Linked DNA regions of Homo sapiens. The protein of the gene in region 4 purifies or fractionates together with the protein of the main gene of each other region. This does not show direct contact. Each region holds a gene or a part of one and is shown on either strand. Other genes may lie near its edges.

Evidence for each region.
Region 1: the proteins of LRRC52 (region 4) and TMEM219 purify together in Homo sapiens (affinity purification with mass spectrometry; one large-scale study listed by BioGRID and IntAct). This does not show direct contact.
Region 2: the proteins of LRRC52 (region 4) and TMEM59 purify together in Homo sapiens (co-immunoprecipitation; one large-scale study listed by IntAct). This does not show direct contact.
Region 3: the proteins of LRRC52 (region 4) and TMEM59L purify together in Homo sapiens (affinity purification with mass spectrometry; one large-scale study listed by BioGRID and IntAct). This does not show direct contact.

What each region holds. Positions count from the first base shown.
Region 1 is NC_000016.10:29,968,579-29,972,078, forward strand, and holds part of TMEM219 (insulin-like growth factor-binding protein 3 receptor isoform 1 precursor), read left to right. Parts: intron 1-2,829; coding exon 2,830-2,967; 3' UTR 2,968-3,000; intron 3,001-3,463; exon of another isoform or gene 3,464-3,500. UniProt on the Homo sapiens protein: Cell death receptor specific for IGFBP3, may mediate caspase-8-dependent apoptosis upon ligand binding.
Region 2 is NC_000001.11:54,039,705-54,043,204, reverse strand, and holds part of TMEM59 (transmembrane protein 59 isoform 2 precursor), read left to right. Parts: intron 1-1,399; coding exon 1,400-1,481; intron 1,482-2,364; coding exon of another isoform or gene 2,365-2,367; coding exon 2,368-2,449; intron 2,450-3,500.
Region 3 is NC_000019.10:18,615,870-18,618,704, forward strand, and holds part of TMEM59L (transmembrane protein 59-like precursor), read left to right. Parts: intron 1-105; coding exon 106-258; intron 259-1,130; coding exon 1,131-1,233; intron 1,234-2,285; coding exon 2,286-2,403; intron 2,404-2,505; coding exon 2,506-2,623; intron 2,624-2,835. UniProt on the Homo sapiens protein: Modulates the O-glycosylation and complex N-glycosylation steps occurring during the Golgi maturation of APP. Inhibits APP transport to the cell surface and further shedding.
Region 4 is NC_000001.11:165,550,500-165,553,999, forward strand, and holds part of LRRC52 (leucine-rich repeat-containing protein 52 precursor), read left to right. Parts: intron 1-3,500. UniProt on the Homo sapiens protein: Auxiliary protein of the large-conductance, voltage and calcium-activated potassium channel (BK alpha).

The DNA.
Region 1 (3,500 bases), on a different chromosome or scaffold from region 4:
TCTCTACTTCAAAGGAGTTCAGAAGCTATAATAAGAGGCAAATGGGCTAATTGCTATTAGAGAGATGTGAGCAAAGTGTTATGCAAACACAGAGAAAGGAGCCATTAACCCTAACTTGAACATTTATGGAGAGTGCATCACAGAGAAGGTGGCATTTACCAGAGAGCATTGTGCACAGTGGTTTATAATGCACAAAGTGCTCTCAGGGTTCATTAATTCATTTGATCTTAAAATAGCCTTTTGAGGTAGGTGTTATTATCCCATTTTACAGATGAGGAAACAGGTTTAGAGAAAGGGAGTGAATTGCTGCAGGCCACACAACTGGTTAAGTGGCAGAGCCAGGGTTGCAACCCACACCTTCTGTCAAGTCAGAATGATCCTTGAAGAATGAGGAAGATTTGGACAGGGACTGCAGTAGAGGAGGTTCAGGAGAGGGGGAGGTACACTCCAGGCAAAGGCACCAGCATGCGCACAGGCCTAGAGATTGAAAAGTGTTCAGCCAGGTGTCACATCTGTAATCCCAGCACTTTGGAAGGCCGAAGCAAGGAGAATGCCTGAGGCCAGGAGTTCCAGACCAGCCTGGAGAACATAGCAAGACCTCGTTTCTTTTTCGCTTTTTTTTTTTTTTTTTTTTTTGAGACGGAGTCTCACTCTGTTACCCAGGCTGGGGTGCAGTGGCACAATCTCGGCTCACTGCAAGCTCCACCTCACAGGTTCATGCCATTCTCCTGCCTCAGGCTCCCGAGTAGCTGGGACTACAGGCGCCTGCCACCATGCCCGGCTAATTTTTGTATTTTTAGTAGAGACAGGGTTTCACCTTGTTAGCCAGGATGATCTCAATCTCCTGACCTCGTGATCCACCCACCTCAGCCTCCCAAAGTGCTGGGATTACAGGTGTGAGCCACTGCGCCTGGCGACCCCATTTCTTAAAAAAAACATTTTTTTTTTTAATTAGCAGGGTGTGGTGGTACACACCTATAGTCCCAGCTACTCAGGAGGCTGAGGTGGGAGGATCCTTTGATCCCAGGAGTTTGAGGCTGCAGTGAGCCATGATTGTGCCACTGCACTCCAGCCTGGTTGCCAGAGTGAGACCCTGTCTCAAGAAGGAAAAAAAAAGAAAGTGTTCAGCCTTTGGGAGCACTCCATGTTGAGAGGCTTAGGAAGGAGAAAAGGCAAGAGAGACCACAGGGATTTGATGGAGAGGCTCTGTGAATGCAGGATAGAGGGCTATGACCTGATGCTGAAGGCCGTGGGGGCCACTGAGGAGTTTTAAGGAGGAGAGAGATGTGCTTCCCTGGTGCTGGGTGGAGAATGGCTGAGTGGAGGAGGGCCATCAGTCAGGAGGCTGCTGCACACTCCACTCTCACATTTGAAAATACCCCATGAGGCACGGTGGCTCACGCCTGTAATCCCAGCACTTTGGGAGGCCAAGGCCGGTGGATCACTTGAGGTCAGGACCAGCCTGGCCAACATGGTGAAACCCCATCTCTACTAAAAATTTAAAAATTAGCTGGATGTTGTGGCGGGCGTCTGTGATCCCAGCTACTCAGGAGGCTGAGGCAGGAGAATCTCTGGAACCTGGGAGGCAGAGGTTGTAGTGAGCTGAGATCATGCCACTGCACTCCAGCCTGGGCAACAGAGTGAGACTCCGTCTCAAATAAAGAAAAAAAGAAAAGACCCCATGAGGAGCACAACCTGGGACTTGGAATCAGAGATCTGGTTTCCAGATCTAGCACTGCTTGCACTTTTTTTTTTTTTTTTTTTGAGATGGAGTCTTGCTCTATCGCCCAGGCGGGAGTGCAGTGGCGCAATCTCAGCTTACTGCAAGCTCCGCCTCCCAGGTTCACGCCATTCTCCTGCCTCAGCCTCCCAAGTAGCTGGGACTACAGGCGCCCGCCACCATGCCCGGCTAAGTTTTTGTATTTTTAGTAGAGATGGGGTTTCACTGTGTTAGCCAGGATGGTCTCAATCTCCTGACCTCGTGATCCACCCACCTCGGCCTCTCAAAGTGCTGGGATTACAGGTGTGAGCCACCGCACCCAGCCACTTATACATCTTTAAACTGTGGATCATAATGAAGTTTCCTATCTCATGGAGTTATGATGGGGTTTCAGGTTGATAATTGGGCAAGAAAGTAGTTTTTAAACCATCAAGACAAATGTTCGAGCCTGGGCAACATGGTGAAACCCCATCTCTACAAAAAAACACACAAAAAATTAGCTGGGCGTGGTGGCACACACCTGTGGTCCCAGCTACTCAGGAGGCTGAGGTGGGAAGATCGCTGGAGCCCAGGAGGCGGAGGTTGCAGTGAGCCGAGATTGCACTACTGCACTCCAGCCTGAGTTACAGAGTGAGACCCTGCCTCAAAAAGAAAAAAAAAAAAAAGGGCCAGGCGCGGTGTTTCACGCCTGTAATCCCAGCACTTTGGGAGGCCGAGGTGGGCGGATCATGAGGTCAGGAGATCAAGACCATCCTGGCTAACACGGTGAAACCCCGTCTCTACTAAAAATACAAAAAATGAGCCAGGCGTGGTGGCGGGCACCTGTAGTCCCAGCTACTTGGGAGGCTGAGGCAGGAGAATGGCGTGAACCCAGGAGGCGGAGCTTGCAGTGAGCTGAGATCGCGCCACTGCACTCTAGCCTGGGCGACAGAGCAAGACTCCATCTCAAAAAAAAAAAAAAAAGACAAATGTCAGCTTATATGAAAATAACATTTTCCCTTCAGTTGCTCCCTAGATGTGGAGAGCCCTCTCCCTCATGGAGGCTCCTTCTATAGCCCTTGGACTGGATTAACATGTCCTCCTCCTCCTCTCCCTGTACCCCTCCCTAGGAGGAGCTGGCTCTGTGTGGCTCCAGGCTGCTGGTCTTGGGCTCCTTCCTGCTTCTCTTCTGTGGCCTTCTCTGCTGTGTCACTGCTATGTGCTTCCACCCGCGCCGGGAGTCCCACTGGTCTAGAACCCGGCTCTGAGGGCACTGGCCTAGTTCCCGACTTGTTTCTCAGGTGAGGTTCTTTGCTCCAGTCCTGCGGGAGCAGGGAATGGGGTGGGGGTGGGGGTTGTAACCGGGGTAGAGCAGATCCTTGGACTTTTCCTCAAAGACTGCTGCTTCTGAGTCCCCGAGAACCTCTTCAACCACAGCTCTCCCTTAGGGACTGGGAACAATTTGACACCGTCAGCATTCAATATTTTTCTAATTACTTTAACTTTTTTATTATAAAATAGTTAACACTTATGTAGAAAAGTCCAATAGTATAAAAGGACAGCTTGGCAAATTATTATAAAGTGGATACTTATAAATACCACTGAGTAGAATATTACCAGCTGTCCAGAAACCCCCCATGGTCCCTTCCTTCCTGACAATGCCCTCTCTCTCCCTAGAAATTACTGTCCTGCTTTATAATGTATTGCCATGTATGTATTCCTAAATAATATAGTTTGGTTTTACTTATTTTTGAAACTATGTAGACAGAATCATACACATTCTTTTGTGGCTGACTTCTTT
Region 2 (3,500 bases), about 110 Mb from region 4:
CCCTTCCCTTTGCCCGTTAGAAGCCTAATCTAAAGCCCATTAGTTTTTATGTAACCAGAACTCTTGAGTCTTTTAAATTTTATGGTGGTTAAATTGATAAAATGAAATTTTTAAATATGAGAGACAATAATTAATATACTTCGAACATAAATAGTGGCCATATATGATTACATATGGATATCAGATAAAAGCAATATGACATAATTTTTAGTTTTTTACAGTGCTTTTACTCATGACTCTAATAAGAGAACTTGTTGAAGAAGTATTTTGCCTAGAGAAGTAATGTCTCCTATCTCATCGTTTACCACATGATAATAACTGTTATTCCCTGGAGGTTATATTGTGCTAGATATATTCTCTCACATCTTCAAACAACTTTATGAGGTTGTATTATTCCTGTTTTATTATGAGGAAGGTGAGAGTAACTTGTTGCAGTTTCACGGCCAATAAGTAACAGAATTAAGCTTCAAACCCAGGGCACTTTAGCACCAAGGCCCATATACTACCCTACCATGCTTTTAATTCAGTAGTTGAATTCCTCAAATTTACCAGTCAACAGAGTTTATGTTGTGGCACTGTCTTCCTCTCAGGTAATAAAGTAAACCTTTTAAGTACTGTAGCTAAGTAAGTGGCTTAATGTATGGCTGGTATGTGATTTTTAGCACTCCCCTGAACCTTGGGTCCCCTCTACTTAATTTGGTAATAAGTAAAACACAGGAATTTTCTCTTTAAATTCATGAACAAGTTCTAGGTCCTAAAGCTACTTACCTCAAGGCATAAGTTGACTCTCAGAGTGAAGCCCTCATTCATTCCTCATTAGATAGGAGATTAGCTCTGTGTCTCTCTAAAGTCTGTGTGAATTTGAGCATAACTGGGATGCAGAAACCCCCATTCTAGAGGATCAGAACTATACACAAGATGTAAAAAGTATGGAGTGTTTGGCTGTAATTTATGGATTCCTCATACTTAGGGAAGAATATAATGTTTCATATGAGAATAAATAGAGATAATGTGTATTTAGCCAAAAGTTTTGGCAGTCTGATAAATTATTCCTGATCAACTAGAATTAGAACTCATTTCTGCAAGGTATAGTATTTAATGTAGTATGTCATGATTTGTCCCTCTCTCCCTTTAAAAAAAAAAAAAAACAAAACAAAACGTTGTCAGGAAGTTAAACTAACATAAATCTGCCAGAAATCTGTTTCTTTGCAAGGCACTGGCTCTGATGTTTAGGAAGTGCAATTAAAATATATTGTGGTTAATGTGTTTTATTTTTTATACAGTATTTCTGCTACTTTTTCTCAATTTAAATGTTTAAAGAGATGATTTGTTTTAGAACTTGTTACTGAAAAAAGCTAAAGAAGTACAAATGACTTAATTGCTTTCATTATTATTTTAGTCTAAGCCAGAAATCCAGTACGCACCACATTTGGAGCAGGAGCCTACAAATTTGAGAGAATCATCTCTAAGCAAAATGTCCTGTAAGTTTTATTTTAAGTAGCTTAGATAAAAACATTAGCAGTCAAATCTGGTTGTAGTAGAGTTGGTCATGTTTGTTTTTACACTGATGGAACATAAACAGATAATTTCTAAAACAGTGGTTCTCAAACTTTCATGTGTATTACAGTTTGGAGAGCTTGTTCAAACACAGATTGCTGGGCCCTACCTCCAGAGTTTCTAATTTACTAGGTCTGGGAGAAGATCTGAGAATTTGTATTTCTCACAAGTTCCAGATTTTGCTGATGCTGCTGGCCTGGGGGCCACACTTTGAAAATCACTATTCTAAAAACATTTAGTTTGCTTCAAAGGATGTTTTGAGCATGAACTAATCAAATATTCTGGTATTTCCCAATAAATTGATCAAATAATGAAAAATGCCAAAAGTGAGAGTCCCCATTCTATTTTTATTTCCATGTTAGAAGTGAATTTTGACTTATAAGAACATAAAACATCAAGCTAAAGCAGAACTCACCTTGTGAAATTTCCTCATACCTTATTTTAGATACTGATTTAATTAGCCTTCTAATTATTTTGGTGGGTGGGAGTGGGTAGATAATGATAGCACATAACATAAGACCATCTTTAACTTTAATTAGATTAGAATAAACCAAATCCAAGCTCACATGTAATTAAGCAGAAAGCATCAATGTCAATAAGAATTTGAAAATAAAACAGGAAACTCATAATGTGATAGAATATTCATTTGGTTTTGATGTGCTAGAGAAACTGGTACACATTATAAAATGTATCAGATGACACAAACAAAAACAATTGGATATCTGTAAAGTGTATATATCTAGAAGTAGTCATGTGAGACTAGCTTTTGGAATATAGGATATAATAAACTCATACTTACTATTTCAGCAGATCTGCAAATGAGAAATTCACAAGCGCACAGGAATTTTCTTGAAGATGGAGAAAGTGATGGCTTTTTAAGATGCCTCTCTCTGTATGTATTCCTCTTTATTATGTGTATAACAGATAAAATCTGGCTTGTATCAGAGAGATATATTACTTTTTATTATTTTAAAATTAGCACCTCAAAAGTAAACCTTTTTACTTGTTCCTTTCCAAAGTTGTACATTAGATATTTTAGTTTGTTTAAAAGGTTGTAGGCATACTACTTGAATAAAACCCAGGCAGGTAGTTTTTTTCACAGTACAAGAGCATTTTTCTTGTTAGAATCTCTTGATTTATGTTGAATGTGCTTCTCCACACATTTAAATTAAGCTTTAATTTAACATATGTCTGAGGCCGGGCACAGTGGCTCATGCCTGTAATCCCAGCACTTTAGGAGGCCAAGGCGGGTGGATCGCCTGAGGTCAGGAGTTCGAGACCAGCCTGGCCAACATGGCGACACCCCATCTCTACTGAAAATACAAAAATTAGCCGGGCGTGGTGGTGCATGCCTGTAATCCCAGCTACTTAGGAGGATGAGGCAGGAGAATCGTTTGAACCTGGAAGGCAGAGGTTGCAGTGAGCTGAGATCACGCCACAGCACTCCAGCCTAGGTAACAGAGTGAGACTCTGTCTCAAAAAATAAAATAAATAAAATAAGTATGTTTGAATGGTTTAGGGATCAGATTTTTGTTTTTGTTTTTATCTGCATGGCCAGATTTGACGCTAGAAGAGCTGGATAAAGACTCTAGATTAAGAAGGGCTTTGTATTCTATACTAAGGAATATCAGCTCTATGCCAAGAGTTTTTAAGGGTAATGGTAAAGTGGGCAAGTGAGAGTAGGGGTACCATATGCCCTCCTAGGAAAAAATATCAAGCCTTATGAGGGTGAGAGGCAGGTTTTATGAAAGTGTGCATGTTTCCTCTTCTCCAAGGAGTTCAGATATGGTCCCTCCCCCACATTTTACTCCTCCCCACCCCCAACAAAAAAAGGAAAAAGAGAAAGATAGTGGGCCATACCACTTATTGACTATCACCTACTCGGTGTCAGATACCAGGTCAAGCATTTCAGTGAGTGGTAAACAAGTTTCTGCTTTATAGTG
Region 3 (2,835 bases), on a different chromosome or scaffold from region 4:
AGTGTTGGGATTACAGGCGTGAGCCACCACATCCTGCCCCCTCCCATTCATTGGTTAATGCCCTATTTCGGTGCCATCTTTGTGTCTTGGACCTTTTTTCACCAGAGAAAGGTCCTGGAGGCTCCAAGTGGGGCCCTCTCCCTCTTGGACTTGTTTTCCACCCTCTGCAATGACCTTGTCAACTCAGCCCAGGGATTTGTCTCCTCCACCTGGACATACTACTTGCAGACTGACAATGGGAAAGTGGTGGTGTTTCAGGTGAGACCTCTGACAGGGGCCACGCCAGAGTGGCAGATGGGTGGGCAGGGTAAGAAGATGGGATGCATTGGCTCTTAGCTCATGAGATGCAAAGTCCACAGTGGGCGAGCTTCAGGCACAGCTGGATCCAGGGGCTCAGTGTCTCACTCCATGCCTTGACTCTGCTTTCTTTTGTGGTGGCTTCATTCCCAGGCATTTACTTCTTCTTGGCAGTAAGGTGGATGCCAGAGGCTCTAGGTTACAAACGCTGTGGTTTTTTTTTGTTGTTGTTGTTGTTGTTTTGAGATGGACTCCCATTCTTGTTGCCCAAGATGGAGTGCAATGGCATGATCTTAGCTCACTGCAACCTCCACCTCCCAGGTTCAAGTGATTCTCCTGCTTCAGCCTCCTGAGTAGCTGGGATTACAGGCGGCCACCACCACACCCACCTAATTTTTGTATTTTTAGTGGAGACGGGGTTTCGCCATGTTGGCCAGGCTGGTCTCGAACTCCTGACCTCAGGTGTTTCACCTGCCTCGGCCTCCCAAAGTGCTGGGATTACAGGCATGAGCCACTGCCCCGGCTCCCTCTGGGGTTTTAACTGAGCTGGGATTTACTCTGATTGGCCCTGGCTGGATCATATGACCATCTCTCAGGCAATTCACTGGCTTGGTCTGGATCATGTTCCTACTTCTGGAGCTAAAGGATGGGGTTAAGGCAAATGGAGGAGCCCATGAAAGCAGAAAACAACATCCCTGACATCAAGCCCACCCCTGATACCCAGGGGAACTGGGTATCAGCTGGGCGTGGGACATGGCAGTCACAGAGGGCCTGCCTGGGCCCAGGGGTGCTGTTCTCACAAGCCTCTCTGTGCTGTCTTGTTCCTGGCCCAGACTCAGCCCATAGTGGAGAGCCTCGGCTTCCAGGGGGGCCGTCTGCAGCGCGTGGAGGTGACCTGGCGAGGCTCCCACCCTGAAGCCCTGGAGGTGCACGTGGGTAAGGTGCAACCTAGACCAGTGTTCCTTCCATGGGTGGCCCCACTGCCACAAGGAGTCGGCCTGGCAAACAGACCTTCTAGGATCGGGATCTCCATCTCTCAAGTCCTGGGTTCCATGGCTCATCCCCCAGGTCTCCATGGTCTATTTCCCAGGGTTCCATGGTCCACCTCCCAGGGTTCCATGGTCCACTTCTCAGGGTTCCGTGGTCTACTTCCCAGGGTTCCGTGGTCCATCTCCCCGGGTTCCATGGTCTATTTACCAGGGATCCGTGGTCCACCTCTCAGGGTTCCGTGGCCCACCTCCCGGGTTCCGTGGCCACCTCCCAGGGTTCCGTGTTCCGCCTCCCAGCGTTCTGTGGTCCACCTCCCAGGGATCCATGGTTCACTTTCCAGGGTTCTGTGGCCCATCTCCCTGGGTTCTGTGGCCCATCTCCCAGGGTTCCATGGTTCATCTCTCAGAGTTCCATGGGTTCATCTCCTAGGGTCATCTCCTAGGGTCCATCTCCAAGGGTTCTTTGGTCCATCTCTCAGGGTTCCATGGTTCATCTCTTAGGATTCTGCAGTTCATCTCCCAGGGTTCTGTGGCCCATCCCCCAGGGTTCTGCAGTCCATCTCCCAGGGTTCCATGGTCCATTTCCCAGGGTTCCATGTTCCATCTCCCAGGGTTCCATGTTCCATCTCCCAGGGTTCCATGGGTTCATCTCCTAAGGGTCATCTCCTAGGATCCATCTCCCAGGGTTCCATGGGTTCATCTTCTAGGGTCATCTCCTAGGGTCCATCTCCTAGAGTTCTTTGGTCTATCTCTCAGGGTTCCATGGTTCATCTCCTAGGATTCTGCAGTTCACCCCCAGGGTTGCATGGTTCATCTCCTAGGATCCATCTCCCAGGGTTCCATGGTCCCTGTCTCAGCATTCTGTGGTCCATCTCCCAGGGCTCTGATCTCCATTCCAGGACTCTATGCCCCAGGTCCTGACCTCCTCCCTCCTGGTCATGGTTATTGTGGCCTCTTAGCAAAGACCTGGTGGTCGCTGAGTGGCAGCTGATCTCTCAGACCCTGTAGGCCCCCTGGACAAGGTGAGGAAGGCCAAGATCCGAGTCAAGACCAGCAGCAAGGCCAAGGTGGAGTCTGAAGAGCCACAGGACAATGACTTCCTCAGTTGCATGTCCCGGTGGGTGGCAGGACCTTGGGGGTGGGAGGGGGGTGGGACTGGAGGTACGGGTCTCCCTGGTCCCGGCCTGGGCAGCTGAGTGGTGCCTGCCGGGCGGGGCAGGCGCTCGGGTCTGCCTCGCTGGATCCTGGCCTGCTGCCTCTTCCTCTCCGTGCTGGTGATGCTGTGGCTGAGCTGCTCCACCCTGGTGACCGCGCCTGGCCAGCACCTCAAGTTCCAGGTGGGTGGGATCTGTGAATGGCGCTGGGCCGAGGGAGGGGGTGAAGGCAGAGAGAGCTGTTTGCTGGTCCTGGATTTGGCCACCTGCTCCCATGGAGGCCAGGACCTCAGACATTTTTTTCTTTTTTCATGTATATACATATATATACATATACGTGTGTGTGTGTGTGTGTGTGTGTGTGTATATATATATATATAATATATATATATATA
Region 4 (3,500 bases):
CCATACTGGTTAGGGTAGCCTTTTAACATAGGATGTTTAAGCTGGAACTTTAGAATCCAGAGTCACAGGTAAGTGGCTATAGAGAAAAGCCCAGCACAGAGATATCCTGACATCCAAGTTCAATGTTTTTCCCTGATGCCATGATATTTCTTTGCTGTCAAGCACATCATGATCCATTTAACTCTGAAACATTTATTGTATATTCATTATGTCCCCAACATTGCATTATAATGCTGGGGTGGCTGTTTCACCGAGAAAAAAAGTCATAATTTTTGTCTTGAATAAGATAATCTAGGATACGAGAAACAGAAAATAGAATTGAAAGCCAGGAAGCCCTGTCTTGATCCCAGAAATGCCACTGTGTGATATGGGGAAACTCACTTTCCTTCTTCAAGAGTCACTTTTCTTGTCCTTAAAATAAAGGATTTGGGTTAGAGATCCTCAAAGGCCTCCTATAGCTGGTAGCCTATGGACCTAAATAGAAAGATAAGCACACAGGAGGTGAGAGGAGAACAGCGCTCAGCAGGCAAGGTCCCAGGTGAGCAAGTGCAGAGTGGCAAGTGCTGAGGCGAAGGTGTTCCCAGTGATGAGGGCTACATCACATAATTAGGAAGTTCATTTAAGAAACAGATGCCTCTAACTCCTGTACTCTCCCACCTCCTATATTAAGCACCCTCAACTTCACTAAAACAATGCCTCCACCCCAAGAAACTCATTGCCCCAGACTTTCCTCCCAGGCCAGACCTGCTCAAACAGTGCTTCTCAAACTCTAATGAGCACAAGAATCCCAGGTCCTATGCCCTGAGGTTCTGATTCAGTCAACTCTTCATGCCGGTTGTCCTTAGGCCACTTTTCAGAAACCCTAGAACAGTGGCCTGTGTTCTGGACCTTCAGTGGCTGTTCCAATTAGTAAATGAATCGATTTGCTCTGAGATGCTAATGGCTAGTGTTTTGAAATATCCCCTCAGGGAGCATTTGCAATTTGACAGGGAACAACCAGAAACAGTGAGAATTCAGAAAGTGACAGGCTACCAGGGGCTAGAGTGGGGCGGTTTGAGGACAGAGAGTCCCCTCTGTGTCAGCTCTGATAGCCTTAGCCAGTACTAAATGAGCCTGATGGTGGGGCCCACACATCAGAGGAGCTTGAGCAAGGGTGCTGCAGAGGCAGTGGACAAAGCCACTCAGGGCCATCTGCAGGGAGCAGATGGGTTGAGTCATGTGCTGCTTCAGGTCCAAGTCATTTTGAGGGCGTTTTGAGCAGAGAACATCTTAGTTTCATTACGAGGTTATATCATCCTGTATTCAAGACTGTTGTAATGGGATAATGGCCCCATTTCTACCTACCAAGTACAAAGTCATCCACAACTGTGCCCAAACTTAGATTTCCGGAATGAATTCAGGTCCTCACGTTATTCCACTATCAATGCTTACCCATGTCCTCCATCAGGGAAATTAAAATAAAGACCAAAGGCTAAAAAAGAAAAAAAAAAAAAAAAGGCTGGGCAACCAGCAGCTCCAAGGCTTCCAAGGCTGTTGAAAGCCAGAACAGCAGCCTCCTGAGGGCAAGGAGGGGGCTGAGAGGGGTGCAACTGAGTCAGTGATCCCTAAGCCACCCAGAAAATCCAAGAAGGGATAGGAGCAGCAAGCATGGGACATTTAGGAACCCCTGGGTGATGCTGACACACTCCCTGACTCAGGCCAATTGGGATCCCTGAGAGTAGGTGATCGAAGGTTACTCCAAGCTCAGAAATGCCAGATTTCTACACCTGGCCCCTCAGGTCACCCAGCATCACTCAGGACTCTGAAAAACAGCAGTTCAAGTCTGGCTAAAGCAGCCAACCTCAGTTTGCTCATCTTTAAAGGTGAAGAGCTCCTCATCCTGGAGGTAATCCTACAAAGGATGGATGTGGCTAGAGAAAAGAATGGGGGCCCAGCTAGGAAGGGCCTTGAATGGTTTTCTGGGGAACATGCAATATATCCTAAGAAGTCTTGGGAGGCAAGTGAGCTGGAGGTAAGGCTAGGAAGGAAGCTCCCGTAGGCGTTCAAGCCAGACAGTATGGCAGCCTATGGCAACAGTGAGGAGGAGAGGTGTAGACATTTGAGAAGGAATCATTTAGAAGGCAGAAGCAACAGGATTTGGGACTGAACTAGCTCCTCTCATAGTTTCTTGTGCACCCTTTGTAACTTCTGGCACAATTCTAATTAATAAATGTGTATTCATTTAACATTTGTCTTCCCTGATAGACCGGAAGCTCTATGACAGCAGATCTGGATCTTCGGAAACAAGCACAGGCCTGACACAGAGAAAATGCTCAACTAGTGTTTCCTGAGTGAATGAATGAGATACAGAAAATATAGAAAAGGGAAAAATCAATGGTAGCTCCCAAGACTTTGGCTTGGACAGTGTGGGGGCTTTGCTGACATAAACACACTTGGAGGAGGGCAGTGAGGAAGTCAGGCTAGAAGTCAAGTCCCATCTTGACCTTACTGAGTGGGAAGTCCCTGTAAAACACTAGGCATTTGTATGTTCTGACCTGAAATTCAGAATAGAGGACAGGGCATAAAATATACATATATTTGGGGATCATCAACTTACTAGTGATCACTGAAACCTAACAGAAGATGAGATCAATCAGGAAAAAGAGTTTCAAGTGAGGATAATAAGGGCCAAGTACAGAAGCTTTGGGGAATGCAACATACTAAAGGGTCAAGTAAGAAAGAGCAACTCATGTAGGACAGCAGGAGCCCCCAGACAAAGGAAATTAGAACAGGATAAATTCATGGAAGCCAAAGAGTTCCAAAAAGTGGGAGCAGGTCAGATAAGGACAGAAAACTGTCCATCAGATTTAGCACCAGGGATCCCTGATGTCTTGGGCAGTTCTGCTGGCATGATGAGAGTGAACACCAATCCATAATGGGCTATGAACTGAACATAAAAGGTGTGAAGGAGTAAACCATGTAAACTACTCTTCTAGAAAGCATGGCTGTGGACTGAAGGGAATAGGGTGCTAGTTGGAGAGAAAACAAATGAAGAAGGAGGATTTTTAGGAGAAAAGAGATCCAACCATGTGTTTATCTGCTGATGGAAAGAGTCGATGCAGAGAAAAAGGACAAAGATACAAGAAAGAGGGGAAGTCATTGGTGGGGTAAAGTCCCTGAGAGGACAGAAATGGATGGATGATCTCCAAGGGGTAATCCTTGAAAGGGGAGTGGCACCCCCTCTGCCCTCTGGGACTGCAGAGAAGGAGGCGAGGGTAAACATAGATGGGGGTGACTGTAATAACAGGGGACAAATACAATTGAGGGGCCCAATTGGTGCCTGTATTTCTCTTTCAGTGAGGTGAAAGACAAAAAATGACTATATATCTATAAAGTACACATTTTCATGTAATGTTTTCTATGAAGCTTCCATAACACCAATCCAATTAGGCGACTATAAAATATCCATTGTCCTTGAGATGCTCACATCCTAGTTGAGCAGGCAACACCAAGGTGGGCTG